2 separate regions of the Homo sapiens genome follow, and region 2 is linked to region 1. The links come from fine-mapping of genetic effects on gene expression. A gene starts in region 1. The other region holds a variant in brackets. All regions are shown on one strand. Distances are from middle to middle.

What was found.
Region 2: its variant is fine-mapped to the expression of RPL23A in whole blood (TOPMed, PIP 0.96).

Annotation. Positions count from the first base shown.
Region 1 is chr17:28,716,085-28,724,308 of GRCh38, reverse strand. RPL23A (ribosomal protein L23a) reads right to left here and starts at 4,324. Exons shown (of 5, transcript NM_000984.6): 1 at 4,279-4,324; 2 at 3,419-3,602; 3 at 1,410-1,586; 4 at 669-738; 5 at 1-442. The coding sequence starts at 4,303. The coding sequence ends at 428. It overlaps RAB34 (RAB34, member RAS oncogene family), which reads left to right and starts at 6,441. Exons shown (of 10, transcript NM_031934.6): 1 at 6,441-7,096; 2 at 7,315-7,406. The coding sequence starts at 7,043. It overlaps SNORD42B (small nucleolar RNA, C/D box 42B), which reads right to left and starts at 3,759; the gene lies at 3,693-3,759. It overlaps SNORD4A (small nucleolar RNA, C/D box 4A), which reads right to left and starts at 1,727; the gene lies at 1,656-1,727. It also overlaps SNORD42A and SNORD4B. RefSeq lists silencers at 1-37, 6,349-6,608 and enhancers at 3,610-3,769, 4,110-4,329, 4,760-4,809, 4,466-5,067, 5,068-5,668.
Region 2 is chr17:28,538,714-28,547,107 of GRCh38, reverse strand. It overlaps FOXN1 (forkhead box N1), which reads right to left. Exons shown (of 9, transcript NM_001369369.1): 9 at 8,208-8,394. It overlaps UNC119 (unc-119 lipid binding chaperone), which reads left to right. Exons shown (of 5, transcript NM_005148.4): 5 at 1-400. Among named protein-coding and RNA genes, the nearest start is that of UNC119, 9.7 kb to the left of the region's middle. RefSeq lists an enhancer at 1-174. The variant A/G (reference allele first, on the strand shown) is at 4,457.

The sequences.
Region 1 (8,224 bases):
CAGACCGGTTGGACATAGTAGATGGGTGTGTGAGGACAAAATGCTACCAGAGAGCCAGCCAATCCACACTCCCCTGAAATGGATGCTAACACCCTTCAAACCCTGGGCATTGGTTTCATACACAGCCTCTTCCAGGGATAAAAGGGGTTCTTGTACAGCTTGTTACTCAACCATGGAGGCAAGTTCTGAGTTCTGGTTTTCCTAGGACACTAACTCTAGTCACAAAGATCTCTGGAATGATCATACATGGTGGAGTGGCAGGGTGAGGTATTTCAAAAGGATAAGTAGAACAGGAGTCTTGCCCAAGCCCTGTCATGTCAGTGTGTGTGTGTGGCCTCCCAGCCCAACCAGAAATTGACAGACAGGCATGTATATGGTGAAAAGATATATATATATATATATTCAGAATTAGGCAGCTGGACTCAGTTTAGATGATCCCAATCTGAAAAACAAAAGGGAGCCTCGTTACTGGAGTTGAAATATGAAGATTAAGCTGGAATGTTATTTTTAGAAAGCAAAATGAGGAATGTGAGGATAAGGTTTGTCAAGGATAGGGGTGCAGTCAGTTAATTATGACTAATCAGCAAAGATCAGGCTTTGGTCGCTAACATATGCATCATTTGCACCCAAGGGGTGAGCATTAAGGGGTTTGTAGGAAGGAAACTTACTTTGTTGGCAACATCCAAAGCATCGTAATCAGGAGCCAGTCGAACATATGCCTTCTTCTCTCCATCAGGCCTAGGGTAGAGAAGGAAGCCTTAGTCCCTGCCACCCTCACTGCCCCCACACCCTCCCCCTTCCTCCTCCAGTCCTCCGGCACTTCAGTGGTTCCTTTGTTCATGTCATTCTTTTCCAATAATGATTTTTCCATCATTAGCCCAGAGGACACCATGAAGCCACAAAGCCAATTCTCTTATGGGAAACACCACAGGCCACATTAAGACTTAAACCAAGGTAATCTGCCACGTGTCGCACTCTAGTTGCCTTTCCCAATAGAAGTAGGGACCCAGAAAATGAGGACCAACCCCCAATCAAGTCCTAGAAAGCCTCAGGTCCACACAAAGGTCTGTAACTAAAGCAGCCTGTAATTCCTGCCTCAAGGCTCACACACACTGCTAAACCTACACCAAGTTTAAGTCAAGGAACCTTTTTCCCCTGCTGAAAGGTCCAGGGGATTTTTTTTTTTTTTTTTTTTAAAAAGGGCCTTGCTTGGTTGCTCAGGCTGGAGTACAATGGGGCAATCATGGGTGATTCCTGGCCTCAAGAGATCCTCCTGCATAGCTCGGACTACACGTGTAGTCCTGCATTACCAGGACTACCTAAACATCAAAAAGCTTCATGGAATGCAGGTTTTTTTGGCTCCAGACTGCTGGTCCAGCCTGCTCCCCATCCCTTGAGGCCCAACTCACCGAATCAGGGTGTTGACCTTGGCCACATCAATGTCATACAGCTTCTTCACAGCCTGTTTAATCTGGTGCTTGTTGGCTTTAACATCCACAATGAACACAAGTGTGTTGTTGTCTTCTATCTTCTTCATGGCAGACTCAGTGGTCAGCGGAAACTTGATGATAGCATAGTGGTCAAGCCTGGGAGAGGCAAAATGGGGTCACCTGGCCTGGGCCCATTCTTTTGGAGCCCAGAGCCAGGAGAGCCTAGGTGCATCAGACAACGAGGTACCAATCACTTTGTTCAGACTTTGGTCGCTTTACAGTGTCATCATCTGCACCCTGAAATCTAAGGGCCTGAAGCCCCAATCCCAGGGGCAGAACGTTGTGCATTTTCTTTCTCTTGAAGGGCTCTTACAACCTCAAGTGATTAAAGAATCATCTCTGGGCCAGGTGTGCTGGCTCATGGCTGTATTCCCAGCACTTTGGGAGGCTGAGGCAGGCTGATCACGAGGTCAAGAGATCGTGACCATCCTGGCCAACATGGTGAAACTCCCTCTCAACTAAAAATACAAAAATTAGCTGGTCATGGTGGTGCACGCCTGTAGTCCGAGCTACTCAAGAGGCTGAGGCAGGAGAATCGGGCCAGGGGCAAATTCCTTTTTTTTTTTTTTTTTTGAGACAGAGTCTCGCTTCGCCCAGGCTGGAGTGCAGTGACAGGATCTCGGCTCGCTGCAAGCTCCGCCTCCTGGGTTCACACCATTCTCCTGCTTCAGCCTGGGACTCAGTAGTGGGACTAGCGGCGCCTGCCACCACGCCCGGCTAATTTTTTTTGTATTTTTAGTAGAGACGGGGTTTCACCGTGTTAGCCACGATGGTCTCAATCTCCTGACCTCGTGATCCGCCCGCCTCAGCCTCCCAAAGTGCTGGGATTACAGGCTCGAGCCACCGCGCCCGGCCAGCCACGAGCAAATTCTTATGCATAGGTGAGGTTAAGCCACAGCAGTGGCTTAAGCACAACTGTAACACAGCTTTCCCCATTTAAAGTCACACTTGATTCTAGGTCCAGCTTGGTGGCGGGAGGGGCAGGAAGACAGTCTGTGAACTGCTTTCCTATATGAACACAATCCACTTTTTCTGTTAAGAAAGAGTAGAAGCAGCAAAAACCCATTGGTACTAACTACTACCATGGCTCTACTCAAATCTGTGCTCCCTAAAAAGTCAGTTATTACCGATAGCTCAAATACTCAAGTGCCCAACCTTCTGCCCATTCCCCCCCAACTGTTCCTTGAGCAGTATGAAAATTCGGGAAAATGAATGGAAAGAAGCTTCTATACACCGCAGCAGGCCATAACTGCCAAATACAGATAATGGAATCCCCACTATCAATCAAGAATCAATCCACGTTCTCACCCTCAAGGATTGTTCCCGATAGCAGTAGGAGCTATGAGCAAGGAATCTCTGTATTCTACTTTATACTCCCCCCAAAATAAGTTTTCAAACCGTGACCACATGTGAAGCAATAATTAACCTAACAAATTTTGAGAGACTCAGGGTTTTTTTTTTTTTGAGACAGAGTTTCACTCTTATTGCCCAGGCTGGAATGCAATGGTACGATCTCCGCTCACCGCAACCTCCACCTCCCGGGTTCAAGCGATTCTCCTGCCTCAGCCTCCCGCGAGTAGCTGGGATTACAGACATGCGCCACCATGCCCGGCGAATTTTCTATTTTTAATAGACGCGGGGTTTCTCCATGTCACTCAGGCTGGTCTCGAACCCCTGACCTCAAGTGATCCGCCCCCCCTCGGCCTCCCAAAGTGCTGGGATTACAGACGTGAGCCACCGCGCCCGGCCTCTGGGCTGATCCTGCCAGTTTTGTAAATGCAGCAGAAACAATCTCCTCATACTTCCAATTAGAGAAGCACACTGGACACAATTTGCGTTTGAGAAACCATCACGCAGAGTGAGTGAATTTCCAAATTACCAATGGAGAATACCCAAATCTTTTCATGGGTACAGGGGGCAGTACTGACTTGTTTCTCCTGGGAGCGCTCTTCCGAGGATATTTGGGCTGTCTCCGGAGTCGCAGTGTCTTCGGCCGCCGGAAGGTGGGTGACGTGCGGATCTTCTTCTTTTTGTGGCTGTGGACACCTTTCAACACTGCCTTCTTGGCCTTTAAAGCCTTCGCTTTGGCTTCAGCTTTAGGAGGGGCAGGAGCTGGGAGAAAAGGAAAGAAAACGTGGGTGCGGGATTTAGAAATCGGTCACTTCCGGCCCCAAGAACTGCAGTGGGCCACCCTGGCCACAGGTGCATCAGTGGTTCCTTTGAAGACATCACAAGTGTCAGGAGATTAAAACTTTTCCATCATATGCACGATACCAGAGGCGAAAGCGACCAACTCTAAGTAACTCCAGGGATACGACTATGAAACAAAGTAGCACTGAATGAACGCTTGATACTTTCCAGAAAATGTCCTACGAATTTTACACATACCCCATCGCAAAACCACGCTGCGGAGAGAGGGGCGGGTAATGTAGCCCGGTTGAACATGAACCAGAAGGAAAATGGTTAAAGCTGAGGGCACTAATTCCTTACAGGCCCGGGGACATGGAGCTCCAACCAGTGGATGCATGTAGCTTCCCAGAACCGAATGTCTGGCCCTCCCTGGCGGATGATGCCTGCCGCGTTGCCCCCCCCCAACTCCCTCTACCGGAACTCAGCCCACGAGGCTGGGCCCACGCGGCCCACGTATACTGCAGCGTGTCCGAAACGCAGGGAGCAGCCCCGGAGCAGAGCCCTCAGGGCTTAGCCCAGCAGCCGTGTTCCCAATTCGTTCGCTCTGCGGCGCGGCAATCCCCGGTAAACCAGCTGCGGCCCCATCACCAACACACACCTTCCTTCTTCGCTTTCGGCGCCATCTTGTGAAAAGGGTCTCCAATGCTCGTTCCCACGGGCTTATAGCGCCAAAGAGCACTAAAGACTCGCGATGCTTTGTACTTAGAGCTGATTGGGTAATTTGCAGAGCGGCGCCCTCTGGGAACGGTAGTTAGGTTTAATTTCTTTTTCGTGCGTGAACAAACATGCGCCACTCCTCCCCTCAAAGGCACTAAAGCTTCATGGGGGTTGTAGTTTTTTGTTTTTTGTTTTTTGTTTTTTTTTTGAGCGCTCTGTCGCCCAGGCTGGAGTGCAGTGGCGCGATCTCGGCTCACTGTAAGCTCCGCCTCCCGGGTTTACGCCATTCTCCTGCCTCAGCCACCAGAGTAGCTGGGACTACAGGCGCGTGCCACCATGGGGATTGTAGTTTTTTGAAGACACGCGTTTATTTGCTCAGGCCAGCGGACGGCGTAGCCGGCTGGCGCTCGGGTCTGGTCCCGGGAGCTTCCTATCTTGAGCAACTGCCAGTCTCAGGGAAGAGGATTGCCATGCCAGGAGGCAGGAACGCTGCCAAGAGGAAAGAACACATTTGGATTGACTCGGGAGTTAGATACAGCTAAGTTCTAGAGTGCTGGAGCAGGATTTGCTCGGTCGAACTGAGGTCCAGAGAGGAATGTGGTTTATCAATAACACAGTGATTTGGTGGCAGAAAAAAATCAAGTCAGGGCCGGGCGCGGTGACTCACGCCTGTAATCCCAGCACTTTGTGAGGCCGAGGTGGACGAATTGCTTCGAGCCCAGGAGTTCGAGACCACCCTGGGCAACACGGCGAAACCCTGTCTCTACAAAAGAATACAAAAATTAGCCGGGCGTGGTGGTGCGTGCCTGTAGTCCCAGTTCCTTGGGAGGCTGAGGTGGGAGGATCGCTTCAGCCCTGGAGGTCGAGGCTGCAATGAGCCATTCCAGCCTGGGTGGCAGAGTGAGACCCTGTCTCAAAATAAATAAATAAATAAATAAATAAATAATCGAGTCACGAGGGGGAAGTGTCAGAGGAAGTACAAGGCGGCCACACCTGCCCCTCTTTACCTGCGACACTGATACTGTCAAGTTTTACTGCGTTTCCTGATAATGCATTTGAAGTTCTATGAAAATTCCACACATTTCTCCAAGATTCGCTAGTTTTTCCGGTTAGTAACTTCACTCACAATCCCCTGCCCTAAACTAGTCTTCCCTTCCGTGTCCTGGTCATCTTTACATCCTCAAATTCAGCTCCAGACACAGAGAAAGGTTTCTTAACACTCAGGTTCGCTTCTCCTAAGGTGTGTGCCTAACCCATCCCCACTTGATCCTTTCTTCTTCCCTCTCCCTTCATAAAACCAGACATGTCCCCTTTGACGGTGAAATTGATTGTGCACTGCCCCCTCTTCTATCCTGCAGGACTTTGCACAAAGGAGTTGTCCCTGGGGGATAGATTCCAATGGGGCCAGAACAATGAACACCCATACCAGAGGGGAGTCCCCGCCTCCCAGAGCGGAGACCACCCCGAAGAGCAGAGTTTCCGGGTCCACTTAGCCCTTCTTTAACCTCCCTCGAGGGAACTTGATCTTCAGCCCTCCCACCTCACAATCTACACAGCAGCCTTGAAGGAAAAGACGCCAGACTTCAGACGTCTCTCTCCTCGGTGGGCACCTCATTCTAACCCTGGCACCCCCTTCGCACGCTTCCCCTCCACCATCCTCACCCCCGACCTCCCAGGGCAGAAGGGCGAGAGGGGGCAGACTCTATGAGTCACCTCCCAGGCCTGGAGTTGAGGAGGGAAGCGCCGCCTCTCCTTGGGCCCCTTCTCTCCCCCTTTCCCCTCCCTGCTGGTTCCTGGCATCGCCAGATGCTGCGCAGCAGTCTCCGATTCCCCATCACCAATTCGGCTGGGTAAGGGTCCCCATGAAGGCGCAGCCGGGTATAGAGGTGCAGGGGAGAGCAGCCTGGGGAGTCCCTATCTGGATAGGCTCCAGCCTGGGTCGGGGCGGTCCTGGTGCCCGGTGAAGCGTCAAAAGAGGGAGCCTGAGCGGGGCAACGCAGAAGGGTGGAGAGGAGGGGGTGGCGAGGGCGGGCAGCGAGGCCTGGAGCCGCCAGGAGAGGGGCGGGGGGCGGCCCTTCTCCAGGAATTTCCGGGGATCGTGTTACAGCGTTGGCGGAGCCCGAGCGGAGTGGGACTCGAGGCCCTGTAGCCGGACTGGGCCCCTCGCCCCCTCCTCCAGCGGCCTGCGGGCCTTGGCAGCGCCGCCCCTGCCCACACTGACCCCGTGTGGCGGGGCCGCTCCGCGCCCCCGGGCCGCTCTGTAATGGTAGGGCAGCCTCAGCCCCGAGATGACGTCGGGTCTCCGCGGCCCCGGGTTATTGTAGGAACCATCCGGCCCCGCGTAATCGTAGGAACTATCCGGCCCCGCGTAATCGTAGGGTCTGCGCGGGCCCGGCCCCCACCAGACGGGACTCCCCGCCCCCAATTGGCGGCCGAAGAGTCTCCTCGCCCCAGAGTCATCTTCGGGACGCCCAGGGCCCGGGTGATTTTGGGCTCGCCGCGGCCCCGGGTGATTGTTTCATCTCCGTGGCCCGCGGTGGTCGTAGCGTCTCCGAGACCGCGGACTCCCGTAGGGTCCCCGTGGCCCCGAGTTGTAGTCGGGACACCCCGGCCGCGGGTGATCGTCGGGTCTCCACGCGCCCGGGTCGCTGACGCGGATCCGGCCTCGGCGCCTTCTCAGGGCGCCCTGCAAGGCCGCAGGCAGGATGAACATTCTGGCACCCGTGCGGAGGGATCGCGTCCTGGCGGAGCTGCCCCAGGTAGGCGCCGGGGCCACGTCGGGCTTCAGTCTACAGCCCGGGGTGTGGGCGAGGAGGAGGCGGCACCAGACCAGTTAGAGGACTGGGCCCAGCCCTGCCACCCAGCTAGGCCTGGTGCTTCTGGGTGGTCCCTGCACTCCACCCCTACCCGGGCCGCTTGGCTGCGGGACAAGGGCCAGGAGTAGGAAGCTCCATTCTCTTCCATCCTTCCCACTAAGTGCCTGAGGAAGGAGGCCGCTTTGCACGGGCACAAAGACTTCCACCCCCGCGTCACCTGCGCCTGCCAGGAGCACCGGACAGGCACCGTGGGGTGAGTTAGGGACACCCACAACAAAGAGAGGAGGTCCCAGGAAACTCTGTAGTCATAGCGAGGGTAAACAACCACCCCCTTGGGGCTTCATTTCAGCCCCTACCAGCTATATGGTTATTTCCCCCTCTTTAAGCCCCTGTATCCCCTCCTTTTCTCCCAACAAGGTTGTTGTGAGTTCTATGAGATGGGGTTGGGTAGAAGGGTGGCAGCTGGATTTCTGAGTAGAGACTAAGGTGTCTGAAATGGGAAGGTGGTCACCTGCTCAGATCCCCACATAGCATCCATGGAGCCCCAGGGCAGGGGTCTGGCTGTGCTTACAGGGATGAGTCTTATTGTGGGTTTTAAAGGTAATACTGATAACAGTTGGCACCATTAATTAAGCATTTGCTGTGTGCCAGGCAGTGTTGGGTACTATCATCTTTATTGAATGGAAAAGTCCATCACTTAAGATATATCCTGATTTCAGACATTAAAATGCGGGGGGGAGGGTGTCTTAGAATATAGGACATTTATCTCATTTTAACCTTCACAACGACCCAGTAAAATATATACTAACTTTACTTAAATGTTTAAACTGAGGCTTAGAGAGGCTAAATAACGTGTCCAAAGTCACACAGCTAATCAGTGTGAGAGCTGGGATTCAAATTCATGTCTCTCTGCTTCTGGAGCACAAAACACTCCTCCTCCCCAGCACACCTGTCCACGCAGCTGCCTGGGATGCCTGGTGTCTATAATACCCTCAGCCTGGGTGCAGCTACCTTTCTGGACCTAGTCGGGAGCATTGGAACTCCCTAGGGTGAAAGAGCTCGTGCCCACTC
Region 2 (8,394 bases), 180 kb after region 1:
CATGGGGTGGGGTCGTAGGGAGGCTGTTTGCCTCCACGTCTAGGAAGGCCTGTGAGAGGAGCAGTCAGGACTTCCGGACAACTTAGCTGGGCCCTACTTGGGCCCAAGTTTCAGAATAGTGTTCCCCTATCAAGGCTGTGACTAGATCAGGCAGGGATCCATTCCCTGTCCCCTGCCCACTACCTTCAGGCCATTTAGAGTTGTAAATTTACAAAGATCCACGGTGGGCTCCAGCTGCCAAGCCACCCAAGGGAGTCTGGGCCCTAGGCCTAGCCCCATCCCTCCCCATGAGGGGCCAAGACACTGCCTAAGGTGTGGGAGGGACTGGCTGAGATTGCAGCCCATGGTAGGAGCTGGACCAACTGTATATAGTTTTCAATAAACTTTTTCCTTTTCTGTTCTCTGGTGTGGCCAGCCTCTGTGTGTATGGGCAAAGAAGGGAGCAGGGATAGGCAGGAATGTGCTTAAGGCAGTAAAAATTTCTCCTACCTCCCACATTCCAGTGCACTCTCACCCCTTAGTCTTCCTGTCCCCTGATTCTCTGTACCCTGACACCATATAGAGTCAGCATTTAGAACATGATGGAGCTGGAGAGGGTCTTTCTTGTGATGAAGGAGACCCAGACCCTGAGAGGGGAAGCTTTGGCCCAAAGTCAGAGCCAACCCTGGCAGAACAGAGGCCGAAACAAAGGCCCTGAACTCCAGGGTGCAAGGGGAAGGTGTGGGGGGTGGGGGTTTGGCCTTGTCCTCCACGCTACCTTCCCTGAACCCCAGAGGCCACTAGGACCACTGGGTTGTGTTTTTAGCCCTCATGATAGACGGTGGCAGGGCTTTGGCTAAGGCCTGGAGCCATCTCCTTGCCCTCAGCTGCCTTGGGGAGCCCCCATGCCTGGGTAGCCCTGCACATAACACTGCCCTCAGCCTCCACCCCCACCCCAGACTCAGAGGAGGGGGCTGCTTAATGGAGGAAATTCAGGAACTGAGGTGGGCAGAGAGCACACCCTACAGTTTCAGGCCCTCCTTCAGATATGCCCAGAGCTGACGCACCCTCTGGGCTGAGGAGCTCTGGCCCTAGGAGGCCCAGAAGTGCTGGCATTCAGCTTGATTCTGTGAAGCCCTTGCTGGGGGAAGTGGGGTGGAGCTAGGATCTGCACTGAATTCTGGGAATTCTGAAATGAGTGAGACACAAGGAACACATACTCGTCCCTAGGGAAAAAAAAAGGACTGGGGACACGGAGAGCAAGAATCAGAGTCGTTCTGTGTGGAGGGTTCTGGGGAGGATTTTTAGAGGAGGTAGCACTGGAGCAGGTGCTTGTGATGGAAATTGATGGGGAAGAGTGCTTAGGCACAGGGAACAGCATAAACAAAGGCTCAGAGGCAAGATTTGTCAGGTGTTTGTTTGTTTGTTTACTTATTTATTTGAGATGGGGTCTCCCTCTCAAACTCCTGGGCTCAAGGGATTTTCCTGCCTTGGCCTCCCAAAGTGCCAGGATTATGGGCATAAGCCTAGGTGTGTTCAAGAGTCAATATGATGTGAAAAGAAGACAGATTGGCAGAGCCTTAGGAGCAGGGCTTCTGAGAAGTGGGGAGCCCCTGTGGAGGATTAAGTGGGCATGACCTGGTCAGATTATCTCTGGCTGCTGAGTGAATGGTGGATTGGAAAGAATGACACTAATAGCCAAGATTTACTGAGTGCCAGGCTGGGTGCTCTACATGTGTTAACTCATAAACATGGTCATTTCTGAGGAAGGCACTATTATGATGCCCATTTTACAGAAAATGTAGGTCCAGAGAGGTTAATGTACCCAGCCAACGTTGCACAGCTATGAAGTGGCAGAGCCAGGACTTGAATCCAGGCAGTCCGGCTCCATGCACTACCATACTAAAGGCAGGGGGGCAGTGAGGATGAGGAGGGTGCTGCAGGAATCTGGTGAGAGAGAAAGAGAAACTGAATTAGGTCAGTATCCTCAAAGATGGAGAGAAACAGGTGAAACTGATATTTTTAAGAGGTGAGATCCTCAGGAGTGGTGGCTGATTGGATGAGTGGGTTGGAGAGAGGGAGGAGGTGAGGCTGACTGCCTGGTTTGTGGCCTGGGTGCTGGGGTAGCTACAGGTGCCATCACTGGGTTTGGGAATGCAGGTTGGATCAAGGTGGATGCCAGCAGGAGAGGGTGACTTCAGACTGGGACATGCTGTGGCATGGAGGAAATTACCAGAAGACAGGAAAGGTGGGCCCTAAGACCAGGAGGGGAATAAGGGCTGGAGGTGGTGATTGTCGAGGCCATCGGCCACAAGGTGATTTCTGAAGCTATGATGGTGGCTGAGATCATGGGGTCCTCCACTGACACTCTTGTTATTTAGGAATGCCAAATGTCCTGCAATTACTGGGATTCTCCCAAACAATGCTATTATAATACAAATCCCCATCCCCTAATTGAGGGTGCCTGAACGAGAATGTATCACCTTAGGGAAGGCCAGTGTTTGAGAGCAGGGCGGAAGGAAAGGAAACAATGGAGACAGGAGGAGTGAGCCTCCAGGGAGGTGGGAGCAGAGCCATGTTTTGGAGGAAAGAATTTCATCACAAAGCAAGTGGGCAGGAACTATCAGTTGCCACAAAGGTAAAGAAGGAGAATGAGGACAAGAATGTGGAAGGGAGGGATTTGTTTGCAGATGAGGCTGTACAGGTATGAAAGAAAGGCCAGTATAGGGGTGATTTTGCTGTTGTAGTTTATGGGGTTACAAGTCTGCAGAGAAGGTATAGCAAGGAAGAGGACCTTTTCCCAATACCCTGATAATAGTTCTACTCACTGCAGCTGCTAAGTAAAACTGGGTTGAGGTTCTAGATTGGGCCTGCTGCACTTCCATCTTCAGAGAGAGAGGAGGGTCCCTATTCTGAGGTTCTCATCTCTGAAGTAGGCACCCAGTTGGCACTCACCTTGAAAAGAGGCCTGCGTTCCTTGGGCTTGGAGGAGCCTAGGTTGGGAAAAGCCTTGGCCCCATGCCTTCTTTTAAGTCTTCATGCCTCTGGCACTAGTCCTATTGCAAATGGTACATCTTGCTGCATTTAGTTCCTGGCACTGTCCCTAGGAACCTAGAGGCTGCCTGGGAGGAAGACAGGGTGGAGGTGGGGCTAGTCTTGGCTCTGATGTTGATGAGCTGTTGACCTTGAAGGGGCAATTCCCTTTTGTCTCTGAAATGGGCCAGTCATTTTTGCTTTGACTCTTTTTTTTTTTTTTTTTTTTTTGAGAAGGAGTCACGCTCTGTCGCCCAGGGTGAAGTGCAATGGCATGATCTCCAGGGTGCAGTGCAATGGCATGATCTCGGCTCACTGCAACCTCTGCCTCCCGGGTTCAAGTGATTCTTCTGCCCCAGCCTCCCAAGTAGCTGGACCCATTACAGGCACCAGCCATCATGCCCGGCTGATTTTTGTATTGTTGTAGAGACGGGGTTTCACCATGTCGGCCAGGCTGGTCTTGAACCCCTGACCTAGGTGATTTGCCCGCCTCGGCCTCCCAAAGTGCTGGGATTACAGGCCTGAGCCACCGTGCCTGGCCTGCTTTGACTCTTTAGGGGTGTCATGAGGATCCTGCCCCTGGGTAGAGAAGGAAAGCCCAAGTACCACAGGGAAACCCACAGCTCGTGCCCTCCTGGGCTGGCCGGCAAGGTGCTCACTGGGACTGCCAAACCAGTGGTTAAAATACTAAGATCTTCCCTTCCAGCTGTTAAAAAGCTGCTGTCCCAGGCCGCCCTAGCCTGGCCCCTCCCCTAAGAGTCACCCTCCACTTCCCCACCATCTGGCAACTAAAGCAAGGACATTACCCTTTTTTTTTTTTTTGAGTCAGGGTCTCGCTCTGTTGTCCAGGCCAGAGTCCAGTGGCACAATCATGGCTCACTGCAGCCTCAAACTCCTGGGCCTAAGCAATCCTCCTACCTCGTCTCCCAAGTAGCTGAGACTACAGAAGCTACATGTGCCACCATACCCAGCTAATTTTTTGTAGAGATAGGGTTTTGCCATGTTGCCCAGTCTGGTCTCGAACTCCTGTGCTTAAGCAATCCTTCTGCCTTTGCCTCTCAAACTACTGGGATTACAGGCCCAGCCCCTTGCTTTACTTTTCTATGTGTCACAGACTCTCTTGTTGTCAGTCTGCTAAAGCCTATGGACAATAAAAAGGATTTTAGGAACATAAAATATATTGTTATCCTATTTATTTATTTATTTATTTATTTATTTATTTATTTATTGGGATAGAGTCTCGCTCTGTTGCCAGGCTGGAGTACAGTGGCACAATCTCGGCTCACTGCAACCTCCGCCTCCCAGGTTCAAGCGATTCTCTTGCTTCAGCCTCCCGAGTAACTGGGACTACAGGTGCATGCCACCACACCCAGCTAATTTTTGTATTTTTAGTAGAGGTGGGGTTTCACCATGTTGGCCAGGATGGCCTTGATCTCTTGACCTC[A/G]TGATCCTCCTGCCTTGGCCTCCCAAAGTGCTGGGATTACAGGCGTAAGCCACCCTGCCAGGCCTATCCTATTTATTTTATGTATTAAAAACTATATACAATTGGCCATAGGTTCCGCATCTGTGAATTCAGCCAACTGTGCATCAGAAATGTCTGTACTGAATATGTGCAGACATTTGTCTTGTCATTAGTCCTTAAATAGTACAGTATAACAATGATTGACAAAGGATTTACATTGTATTAAGTATTATAAGTAATCTAGAGATGATTTAAAGTATACGGGAGGATGTGTGTAGGTTATATGCAAATACTCCATCATTTTATATCAGGGACTTACTTGCACATTCATGGATTTTGGAATTTGTGGGAGGCCCTGGAACCACTGTGAGATGACTGTGTGTGTGTGTGTGTGTATCTACAATCATGCACTAGATATCGATGTGTCTGTCATGACAGACTACATATATGTCGACAGTCACATAAGATTATAATACTGTATATATATATATATATATATATATATATATATGTTTTTTAAGACGGAGTCTTGATCTGTCTCTCAGGCCGGAGGGCAGTGGCACAATCTTGGCTCACTGCAACCTCTGCCTCCTGGGTTCAAGAGATTCTCCTGTCTTGGCCTTCTGAGTAGCTGGGATTACAGGCGTGTGTTACCACGCCTGGCTAATTTTTTGTATTTTTAGTAAAGATGAGGTTTCGCCTTGGTGGCCAGGCTGGTGTTGAACTCCTGACCTCAAGTGATGTGCCCGCCTTGGCCTCCCAAAGTGTTGGGATTACAGGTGTGATCCACCGTGCCCGGCCAATACTGTATTTTTTACTGTACCTTTTCTATGTGTTGTAGAAACACACATAGGCATTGTGTTACAATTGCCTACAGAATTCAGCACACTAATATGCCACACAGGTTTGTAGCCTAGTAGCAATAGGCTATCCCATAGAGCCTCTAGGTGTGCAGTATGCTCTACCATCTAGGTTCGTGTGAGTAAACTCTATGATGTTTGCACAATGACAAAATTGCCTAAGGACACATTTCTCAGAACGTATGTCTGTTGTTAAGCGACAAATTACTTTATGTGTGTGTATATGTGTGTGCATGTGTATATATTTGTACATATTTTGTACTATCTATAATACAATTACAAAATATCTGTGATTTCTATTGACAAAGTCACAGGTATTGCCAATGCTAGTGTGATTTGTTGCTGACATTCACAATAGAGGGAAATTCTAGATTTCAGGTAAGGATGAGAGAAAATGAAGATGTAACTTTTTCATGCAAGTTCCTGACCTGGGAATTCTAATCCATTTGAGATCTCTCACATTTAGAATCCCTGAGCAAAAGGATTAATTCCCTCCAAATAACGGACTTGAAGACGCTGCATCCATTCAGACAAATTGTTGCTCACCCTGGCCAGGTGTGGTAGCTCATGCCTGTAATCCTAGCACTTAGGGAGGCCAAGGAGGTGGCGTTGTTTGAGCCTAGGAATTTGAAACCAGCCTGGGCAACATAGTGAGACCCTACCTCTACAAAAAATACAAACATTAGGTGGGTGCGGTGGCCCACGCCTGTAATCCCAGCACCTAACAGAGGCTGAAGTGGGAGGATCACTTGAGCTCAGGAGTTCAAAACTAGCCTGGGTAACATCGCGAGACCCCATATTTACTTAGAAAAATAAAATTAAAAAGATGGTTGCTCACTCTAATAATGGCTATATGCTTGGTATGGGGTGGCCAGCAGGGGGCAGCATATGAGTGGGAGTGTGGGGCTCATTTCAGGGTGGAACTGAGGCCCAGTTAAAAAAAGTCTGAGGGCCTGGTTACACTCTCTCTCTCTCTCTCTCTCTCTCTCTCTCTCACACACACACACACACACACACACACACACACAAAACTAGACCCAAGTCCTACCTGCTTGCTACCTGTCTTCTTGCATTAGGGGCCAGTTCACACACAGGTGTGCTGAATGTGCCCACTGGCCAGAGTTTTGACAGAGGGTCTCCTGGAGGAGATGGCCTAGCCTGGGTATATAAGGCAGGTTTGTCTGAGCTCTCAGAGTCTCAGGACCCGAGGCAAGCAAATGGGTCCCAATAGGATTCTCCCAGGAAACATTTGCCCTGTGTTTGGGGGCCTGGATGTCATCAAGACACAGGCCCAGGGTTGGACAGAGCTGGTGTGCAACATCGCCTGAGGTCTTGGCAAAGAGCCTGCACCTGCTTCCTACACAGCCAGGGCCAGGCTGGGGCAGGTGGGCCTTCCTCTTGGGTGCACCCGCTGGCCATGCCTTCCCCACTCCCTATCCTACCTCAGCCCACCAGCCCTGCATCTAGCCTTCCAGCCTCTGCTGGGGCGGGTGCTGGGGTAGGTGGGGTTCTATTATGGGGTCTTTTGCAGACCTATCCTCTCAGAGGTAGGTGTTGGCTGGCCCCCTGGGCCCAGCCCCAAGAAGAGCTTTGTTTTTTTTATGAGACAGAGTCTCACTCTGTCACCCAGGCTGGAGTGCAGTGGCACAATCTCAGCTCACTGCAACTTCCACCTCCCAGGTTCAAGTGATTCTCCTGCCTCAGCCTCCTGAGTAACTGGGATTAAAGGTGCCCACCAGCACACTCAGCTAATTTTTGTATTTTTAGCAGAGGCAGGGTTTCACCATGTTGCTCAGGCTGGTCTCGAACTCCTGATATCAAGTGATCCACCCATCTCGGCCTCCCAAAGTGCTGGGATTACAGGCATGAGCCACTGTGCCTAGCCATCCAAGAAGTGCTTTCTTTTCTTTTTTTTGAGACAGAGTCTCACTCTGTTGCCCAGGCTGGTGTGCAGTGGTCCAATCTCGGCTCACTGCAACCTCTGCCTCCCGGGTTCAAGCGATTCTCCTGCCTCAGCCTCCCTCCTGAGTACCTGGGATTACAGGCGTCCACCACCACGCCCAGCTAATTTTTGTATTTTTAGTAGAGATGAGGTTTCACCATTTTGGCCAGGCTGGTCTTGAACTCCCAACCTCAGGTAATCTGCCTGCCTGGGCCTCCCAAAGTGCTGGGATTACAGGCGTGAGCCACCGTGCCCAGCCTTCATCCAAGAAGAGCTTTCTAAGCAGAGACACCACTTGTGGCTGCTCTGGGACCTGGGGATCATGTATGTGCTTTTGGCTCCCACATCTGCCCCATCTCTCTTGAGACAGTGCTGCGGTGACACCAACCCCACCTGGAGGTGACACCTAGGGGGTGAGTCTGAAGTGGGACTGAGTGAGCCCCTGACCATCCAGAGACCACTCTCCAGGACCAGCAGTGCACACAGCACCAGGGCATGCTCCATTTTGTCACCTGTGGAACTCAGGGCCCCAAACCACTTGGCATCTCTTTCAGCCAGGGACAGATTGGAAGCAGAAAGGCACAGTTTGGACAGGGCAGCAACTCCTTCTTGTGTGAGGAGATGGGGGTGCAAAGAGGGAGTGGGCAGACCTCAGAGGCAAGGGGTCTGGGGGAGGGCATCCCCTCCATTCCTCTGGCCAGGGCAGCCTCTTCCCTGCATCTCTTTGGAAGTTCTCCTGGGAAGAGGCCCTGCTCACCTGCTCCTCAGCCTCCCCAGTGGGTCAAGAAGTTTTCCTAGATGCCTCACTCTTTGGATTAGAAACTTCCTAGTTCTGGGTGAGGGTGACAGGGACGTCACAGGCCCAGGGCATCTGCCATCAGTGTGGCCTGGCCATTTTGCTTAGGGAGAGGGGCCAGAAATGAAAGCTTGGTAGTGAGACCACAAGGCACTTGCTTTATTGTTCCAGGACAGGGGACAATGACAAGCCATCGCGGGATCTGCTTATGCCTCCTATAAGCCTGGGGCCAACCTGTGGAAGTTCTTGTCACCCCCAGGCCCAGGGTGGGCTGAGGTTCCCCCTCGATGGGGTCAGGCTCATGGCAGGCACCTGGGCCACA